2 separate regions of the Homo sapiens genome follow, and region 1 is linked to region 2. Evidence: fine-mapped expression QTL. Tissue or cell type: whole blood. Region 2 holds a variant in brackets; the other region holds the start of a gene. All regions are shown on one strand. Distances are between the middles of the regions. Region 1 holds the start of DENND10 (DENN domain containing 10). Region 2 overlaps DENND10 (DENN domain containing 10).

What was found. PIP is the estimated chance that this variant, and not a neighbour inherited with it, causes the effect. A credible set is the group of variants that fine-mapping cannot tell apart.
Region 1: DENND10 starts here. The variant in region 2 is the best candidate, but not a certain one, in a credible set for the expression of DENND10 in whole blood (INTERVAL, PIP 0.87).

The regions. Positions count from the first base shown.
Region 1 is chr10:119,101,863-119,106,251 of GRCh38, reverse strand. DENND10 (DENN domain containing 10) reads right to left here and starts at 2,139. Exons shown (of 9, transcript NM_207009.4): 1 at 2,055-2,139. The coding sequence starts at 2,109. RefSeq lists an enhancer at 1-429 and a silencer at 1,571-2,350.
Region 2 is chr10:119,123,370-119,127,758 of GRCh38, reverse strand. It overlaps DENND10 (DENN domain containing 10), which reads right to left. Exons shown (of 9, transcript NM_207009.4): 6 at 4,190-4,290. Among named protein-coding and RNA genes, the nearest start is that of DENND10, 21 kb to the right of the region's middle. The variant T/G (reference allele first, on the strand shown) is at 1,779.

The DNA of each region.
Region 1 (4,389 bases), 22 kb after region 2:
ACTCACATTCTGTTTTTTTTTCTCTCTCTGAGACAGGGTCTAACTCTGTCACTTGGGCTGCAGTGCGGTGGCGCAATCTCAGCTCACTGCAACCTCCACCTCTGATCTCAGCTCACTGCAACTTCCACCTCCCGGGTTCAAGTGATTCTCCTGCCTCAGCCTCCTAAGTAGCTGAGATTACAGGTGTGCACCACCACGCCCAGTTAATTTTTTGCCTTTTTAGTGAAGACAGGGTCTCGCTATATTGGCCAGGCTGATCAACTCCCAGCCTCAATTGATCCACCTGCCTCAGCCTCCCAAAGTGCTAGGATTACAGGCATGAGCCACCACGCCTGGCCTCTTTTTTCAATTTCTTTTTTTGAGACGGGGTTGGGGGGGGTCTCACTCTGTCACCCATGCTGGAGTACAGTGGCATGATCTCAGTTCACTGCAACCTCTGCCTCCTGGGACCAAGCAATCCTCCCACCTACAGGCACACCACACCCGGCTAATTTTTGTATTTTTTGTAGAGACACGAGGGTTTTACCACATTGCCCAGGCTGGCTGCAAACCCCTTTTAAATGCACGTTAGTGTGAATAATTAAAAAACTGCTGAGTTCAAAATATGATCATATGTCATCTTTTTATTTGCTATTAGTAGATAAAGACAGTTTAACTTAGCCTTAGTTCAAAAGTACCTTCTGGAGAAACTAAGTTACTTAGGTTTTGTTTTGAAGCAGTTTGAAAATCACATTAGAAATAAATACAGTAATCCACCTGGACAACATGTCGGTATCCCATCTCCACAAAAAATACAAAAATTAATCGGGTGGTGGTGCACGCCTGAGGTCCCAGCTACTCGGAGGCCGAGGCGGGAGGATGGTTTGGGCCTGGGAGGTGGAGGCTGCAGAGAGCGATGATTGCGCTACTGCACTCCAGCCTGGATAAGAGGGAGACCCCGTCTAAAAAAAAAAAAAAGAAGAAAGACAAAGAAATAAAAACAGTAAGCGATTCCCACATAAACGCACTGCTTTGAGGCACTGAAAAATAATCAGCATATTTCTTCAGTTTTGCTAAAGCCTAAGCAATGTTATTGCGCACTTGGGGAATAGAAAGAGTTTAGGGGTGTGCAAAAATCTCGGGAAAATAAAACTTTTTCGAAGGGAACCAACGGGTTCCATCCCCTAAATACTGCACGAGGCTGCCCAAAGATCCCCGTGTGATATTTTTTAATTATGGAAGATAATTACATTCCTCAGAGCTAACCGAGATTCCACCACACAGGATTGTGTAGAAACTCCTGCTTTATTTATGCACAAGCTCGATCACATGATGCAGGAGCTCTCCACTGGTGGGGGTTGGGGGCTCTGGGATACACTGCGAGGGTCCCACTCCCGGCTCTGTACGGCCTATGGTGTGTCCGTGCACAATGACGGCCTGGGCCTCCATTTGCTCCTCCGTGAAGTGGGCGTCAGACGTTTCCCACGGCCCCTCGGTCCTTGGTGAGAGCTAAAAGGAGACAATGTGTGTACAACGCGCAGCACCCGGCCCAGCAGTCTCCAGCTGCCCGGTCCCACGATGGGGGCCGCCCGGGCGGGCAGTCACCCGTGGCTCCGAGGCAGCCGCCCGCCCCCGGCTCGGGGGAACCGGACCCTGCCTCCTCCCCGCCGCGCCGCGCCGCGCCGCCAGCCGGCTGCTCCCGCCCGGCCCGGCCCCGCCCGCGCAGCGCCCCTCGCAGCTGCCCAGCCTGGGAGCGCTCGACGTCCCGGCTCCGCCGGGCAACCCGGGGCGTGCAGGGGGAGCTCCACCCCGGAATCTTGGAGGTCCCCGGGCTCCCTCGGGCCGGGCAGGCCCCACAGGCGGCCGCGGGCGGGCGGGCGAGGGCGGCGGGCCGGGTCCCCTGCACCAAGGAGGCCGGGCTCCGCAGTCCCCAGTCCAGGCCCAACAGGGAGGGGGCCGCGCCCTCCTCATGCGGTCGGCGCCGGGGGCCGCGGGAGCCCGGGCTGCCCCGGGCCGAGGTGGAGCAGAGGCAGAACCAGGGTGCGGGCTTCCAGGCAGGGCGCCTACGTCCTCACCGATCAGCCCGACTCCAAGCATCAGCTGAGTGTCCGCCACCTCGGCCGCAGCCATCTTCCGCCGCCGCGGCGCGCAGCTCTGGCTGCCGCCTGCAGGACCGGCCTCGCACCCGAACCCCGCCCCGCCCGCCGTAGGGCCCGCCCCCATCACAGGCCCCGCCTCCCTCCCCGGCCCATCATAAGCCCCGCCTCCCTCCCCGGACCATCACAGGCCCCGCCTCCCGCTGTAGGACCCGCCTCCCTCCCGCCCCGCCCCATCACAGGACCATCAACCCCCCCCGTCGGCCCCGCCCCACCCGCAGGCCCACCTATTCCAGCCCCAGTCCTCCCTGCCAGGACCTGCTCAGTGCAGCTCCACTCGTCTTCTGCCCGTGGCCCTTCGCCCTTGGAAACCTCCTTGAGTCTCCGCAGCCTGCCTCAATTTCTCTAATCCAGCTGTTCATCCTTCTTCTTCTCAATCCACTCCAATCTTTCTTCCCGTCGTAGGCTTTCCTTGTTCTACCTCTGCCCTCTGGTCAAGCTCAAAAGAACAGGTCACCTTGTTCCTAAAAAGAGGCGTCCTGAGGATGGAGGAAGGGTCTCCATCCATTCCTTCATCCAGCCACCCCCAAAACAAAACAAAACAAAAATTGAGGGCCTAATAAGGCACTGGGGATACCTTATAGGGCTGAACAAGACAGAGCAGTCCACTGGGGAAGACAGACAATTGGCGAGTAGAATAAATAATCCAGGCCAGGTGAGGTGGCTCACGCCTCTGATCCCAACACGATGGGAGGCCAAGGCAGGAGCATCACTTGAGGTCAGGAGTTCGAGATCAGCCTTGGCAACATAGTGAGACCCATCTCTACAAAAAAAATTTAAAAATTAGCCAGGCATAGTGGCATGCACCTGTAGTCCCAGCTACTCTCAGGCTGAGGCAGGAAAATCATTTGAGCCCAGGATTTTGAGGCTGCAGTGAGCTGTGATCCTGCCACTCACTCCAGCCTGGGTGACAGAGTGAGACCCTGTCTCAAAAATAAATAAATAGATAAATAGATGACAGATAGATAGATAATAGTAAAAAAGCTCAGAATGATATGTGCCCTGGAGGCAACGATATGTGCCCTGGAGGCAGTGTGTTAGAGAGTGGAGGTGTGCTGCTCTAAAATGGGTGTCAAGAAAGGCTTCTCTGAGAAAGGGATATTTGAACTGAGATCTGAATGATAGTAACGACTCAGACATTGGAAGATTTGGCTCCAAGATTCCTCCTCTGGATCTACTGTCTGCCCCAACCCCAAGTCACACAGAGCTAATTAGGGAGGGTCCTTGGTGTCTGCAGGAATACAATCCCACCCTCATCTTTTTTTCTTTTTTCTTTTTTTTTTTTTTTTTTTGAGATGGAGTCTTGTTCAGTTGCCCGGCCTGGAGTGCAATAGCGCGATCTCGGCTCACTGCAACCTCCGCCTCTCGGTTTTAAGGGATTCTCCTGCCTCAGCCTCCTGCGTAGCTGGGATTACAGGCGTGAGCCACTGCGCCTGTTTTTTTCTTTTTTCTTTCTTTTTTTTTTGGAGACAGTTTCTCGCTATGTTGCCCAGGCTGCAATTTATACATTGGAGTATATTTAGGTGTGTATATGGCATTCCTGTTTCTCTCACTAAACTGAACCCCTGGAAGGCAGCACCCTGAACTACGTGCCCTTCTATTCTCTGGGCTTCCTGTTGTAGTATAACTGTTAATGTGTCTAGTTTTCACAGAAAAGAAGCAGGTGTTTAGAGGCTGAGGAGTGGGACACAGATGTGGAATCAGTTTGGAAGCCAACTAGAAACTTGCACTAGGTGGGGCACGGTGGCTCACGCCTGTAATCCTAGCACTTTGGGAGGCTGAGGTGGGTGGATCACGAGGTCAGGAGATTGAGACCAACCCGGCTAAAACGGTGAAACCCTGTCTCTACTAAAAATACAAAAAATTAGCCGGGCGTGGTGGCAGGTGCCTGTAGTCCCAGCTACTTGTGAGGCTGAGGCAGGAGAATGGCGTGAACCCGGGAGGCGGAGCTTGCAGTGAGCCGAGATCACGCCACTGCACTCCAGCCTGGGCGACAGAGCGAGACTCCATCTCAAAAACAAACAAACAAAAAATCACAAAAATTAGCTAGGCATGGTGGCAGGTGCCTGTAATCCCAGCTACTCAGGAAGCTGAGGCAGACTGGCTTGAACCCAAGAGAGGACGGTTGCAGTGAGCCAAGATCGCGCCACTGCATTCCAGCCTGGGCGACAGAGTGAGACTCCATCTCAGAAAAAAAAAGAAAAGAAATGAGGATGAAGACGATGATGAACAGATAATTAAACAAAGGAGAGGG
Region 2 (4,389 bases):
CCTAGCCCTTTGGGAGGCTGAGGCGGGTGGATTGCTTGAGCTCAGGAGTTCGAGGCCTGCCTGGGCAACATGGCGAAACCCCATCTCTACTAAAAATAAAATAAAAAAAAAAATTAGCTGGGCATGGTGGCACATGCCTGTAGTCCCTGTTACTCGGGAGGCTGAGGCACAAGAATTGCTTGAACCTGGGAGATGGAAGTTGCAGTGAGCCAAGATCACGCCACTGCACTCCAGCCTGGGCAACAGAGCGAGACTCTGTCTCAAAAAAATAAAATAAAATAAGATAAAACAAAATAATTTAAAAAACAACAAAAACAAAACCTACTACTGAGAGCCAGACCCAGGCCCACCCATGAATGAGAAAATGTGACAGATGACAAGTAATATTACTCATTACTGAAAAAAGAAAGAGATTATTCAATAAATGTCCTGGTCCAAGTGGTTATCCATAGGGTAAAAAAGTTCAGTCAGATCCCAAACTCACACACTACACAAAAAATTATTCCAGATAAATTAATAACTTCACTGGGAAATAAAAAACATTAAAAATGTTTAGGCCAGGCACAGTAGCTCACACCTATAATCTCAGCACTTTGGGAGGCCAAGGCGGGAGGACTGTTGAGCTCAAGAGTTCGAGACCAGCCAGGGCAACATGGTGAAACCTTATCTCTACCAAAAAAAAAAATACAAAAATTAGCCAGGCATGGTGGCACGTGCCTGTAGTCCCAGCTACTTGGGAGGCTGGGGTAGAAGGATGGCTTAAGCCCAGGAAGTGGAGGTTGCAATGAGCCGAGACTGAGCCACTGCACTCCAGCCTGGGCGACAGAGCAAGACCCTGTCTCAAAAAAAAAAAAAAGAAAAGAAAAAGAGAAAGAAAAATTTTCATAAGAAAATGGCCAGGCACAGTGGCTCATGCCTATAATCCCAGAGCCCAGGAATTCAAGACAAGCCCAGGCAATAAAGCAAGACTTTGTCTCTAAAAAAAAATACAGACGGCTGGGCGCAGTGGCTCACGCCTGTAATCCCAGAACTTTGGGAGGTCAAGGCAGGTGGATCATCTGAGGTCAGGAGTTCGAGACCAGCCTGACCAATATGGTGAAACCCTGTCTCTACTAAAAATACAAAAATTAGCCAGGCATGGTGGTGGGTGCCTGCAGTTCCAGCTACTCAGGAGGCTGAGATAAGAGAACTGCTTGAACCAGGGAAGTGGAGGTTGCAGTGAGCTGAGAGCATGCCACTGCACTCTGGCCTGGACAACAGAGGGAGACTCTGTCTCAAAAAAGACAGGCAATAACAAACGATGGCAAGAATGTAGAGAAAAAGAACTCTCGTACACTGTTGGTAGGAATGTAAATTAGTACAGTCACTATGGAGAACAGTATGGAAATTCCTCGAAAAACTAAAAATAGAACTACCATATGATCCAGCAATCCCACTGCTGGGTATTTACCCCCAAAAAAGGAAATCAGTGTATCAAAGAGATACCACCATTCCCATGTTCACTGCAGCACGGTTCACAACCACCAAGATTTGGAATCAAACTGAGTGTCCATCAACAGATGAATGGAAAAGAAAATGTGGTGCATATACACAGTGGAATATTATGCAGCTATAAAAAGGAATGAAATCCTGTCATTTGCAACAACATGGATGGAACTGGAGGCATCATGTTAAGTAAAAGAAGCCACGGACAGAAAGACAAATTTTGCATGTTCTCACTAATCTGGGGGAGCTAAAAATTAAAACAATGGAACTCAGGGAGATAGAGAGTAGAATGG[T/G]GGGTACCAGAGGTTAGGAAGGGTAGTGGGGAGAGGGGGAAAATTTGGGATGGTTAGTGGATACAAAAATATAGTTAGAATGAATAAGACCTAGTATTTGATAGCACAATAGGGTGACTACAGTGAATGATAGTTTATTGTATATTTAAAAATAACTAGAAGTTGGCTGGGCACAGTGGCTCACACCTGTAATCCCAACACTTTGGGAAGCTGAGGCGGGTGGATCACCTGAGGTCAGAAGTTTGAGACCAGCCTGGCCAACATGGTAAAACCCCATCTCTACTCTCTACCAAAAATACAAAAAAATTAGCTGGGCATGGTGGTGCACACCTGTAATCCCAGCTACTCAGGCAGCTGAGGCAGGAGAATCGCTTGAACCTGGGAGGTGGAGGCCGTAGTATGCTGAGATCGTGCCACTGCACTCCAGCCTGGGCAACAGAGTGAGACTCCAACTCAAAAAAAAAAAAAAAAAAAAAAAAGAAAACTAGAAGTGGAATCACAATGTTCTTAACACAAAGAAATCATAAATGCTTGAGGTGATGGATACTGCAATTACCCTGATGTAATCATTATACATTGTAGGCCTGTATCAAAACATCATATGTACCCCATAAATACATATACCTATTATATACCCATAACAATTAAAAAGTTAAGATGAAAAAAAAAAGTCACTGATAAACTTTTAAGACTAGAACTTTACAAGTTCGGCCAGGCACAATGGCTCATGCCTGCAATCCAGGCACTTTGGGAGCCTGAGGTGGGTGGATCACCTAAGGTAAGGAATTTGAGACCAGCCTGGCCAACGTGGAGAAACCCTGTCTCTACTAAAAATACAAAAATTAGCTGGGCATGGTGGCAGGTGCCTGTAATCGCAGCTACTAGGGAGGCTAAGGCAGGAGAATTGCTTGAACCTAGGAGGCAGAGGTTGCAGTGAGCTGAGATCACACTATTGCACTCCAGCCTGGACAACAAGAACAAAACTCCGTCCCAAGAAAAAAACAAAAACAAAAAAAAACTTTACAGGTTAAATAGTTAAATATAGGTTGCATTTTTTAAATTTTATTTTATAATTTAAAAATTTTAAAAGACAGGTCTCCTATGTTGCCCAGGCTGGTCTGGAACTCCTGGGCTCAGGCGATCACCCCACCTCGGCCTCCCAAAGTGCTGGGATTACAGGTGTGAGCCACTGTGCCCAGCCAAAAACAGGCTGCATTTTGATGATGGCTGAACAACAACGTGAATGTACTTAATGCCACTGAACTGTATGTTTACCAATGGTTAAAAAGGTAAATGTAGCTGTGCGTAGCAGCTGACACCTGTAATCCCAACAGTGTGGGAGGCCAAGATGGGCAGATCGCTTGAGTTCGGGAGTTCAAGACCAGCCTGAGTAACACAGGAAGACCTGGTCTCAAAAAAAAAGGTAAATCTTTTTTTCTGGAGACAGAGTCTCGCTCTGTCGCCCTGGCTGGAGTGCAGTGGCTCAGTCTCAGCTCACTGCGACCTCCACCTGCTGGGTTCAAGTGATTCTTGTGCCTCAGCCTCCCGAGTAGCTGGGACTACAGGCACCCACCACCACACCCGGCTAATTTTTTTTTTTTTTTTTTTTGGTATTTTAGTAGAGATACGGTTTCCCCATGTTGGCCAGGGTGGTCTCAAACTCCTGAGCTCAGGCAATCCACTTGCCTCAGCCTCCTAAAGTGCTAGGATTATAGGCATGAGGCACCGCGCCCGGCCAAAAAAAGGTAAATCCTATATGCATTTTACCACAATTTTTTTTTTTTTTTGAGACGGAGTTTTGCTCTTGCTGCCCAGGCTGGAGTGTAGTGGTGTGATCTTGGCTCACCGCAACCTCCGCCTCCCAGGTTCAAGTGTTTCTCCTGCCTCAGCCTCCCAAGTAGCTGGGATTACAGGCATGTGCCACCATACCCAGCTAATTTTTTGTATTTTTAGTAGAGACGGGGTTTCTCCATGTTGGTCAGGCTGGTCTTGAACTCCCGACCTCAGGTGATCTGCCCACCTTGGCCTCCCAAAGTGCTGGAATTACAGGTGTGAGCTACCGCTCCCGGCCACAATTTTTTTTTAAACTAAAAAAAAAAAAAAAATTTAAGGGCAAAAAATTGATTGCATGTGCCAAAGAAATAATAAAGGATCAGTATCCCACTTGGGAATGCACAAAATAAAAACAAAAAACCCTCTTTAAAGTGGAATAAAATTAGCCAGGCGTGGTGGCACATGCCTGTAATCCCAGCTACTTGGGAGGCTAAGGCAGGAGAATTGAAGGCGGACGTTGCGGTGAGCTAAGATCGTGCCATTGCACTCCATCCTGGGCAACAAGAGTGAAAATCCGTCTCAGGAAAAAAAAAAAAAAAAAAGTGAAACAGTTCCTCCCCTGGGATCCTCTTGTCTACCTGTGCACATCTGCAGGGCTTCCAGCTCATCGGCGTTGAGGTGCACGTAAGAGTGAAGGATGGTCCAGTCCTGTCGGTGCCACACCAGGGCAGGCAGAGTCCTGGGGAATCAAGGCAAGAACTCAAGTTGTTGCTGGTCCACACCTTAAAGACTCAGCCTGCCCCCTTCTCCTCTTCCTGAGAAGGAAATGAAGAGGGTA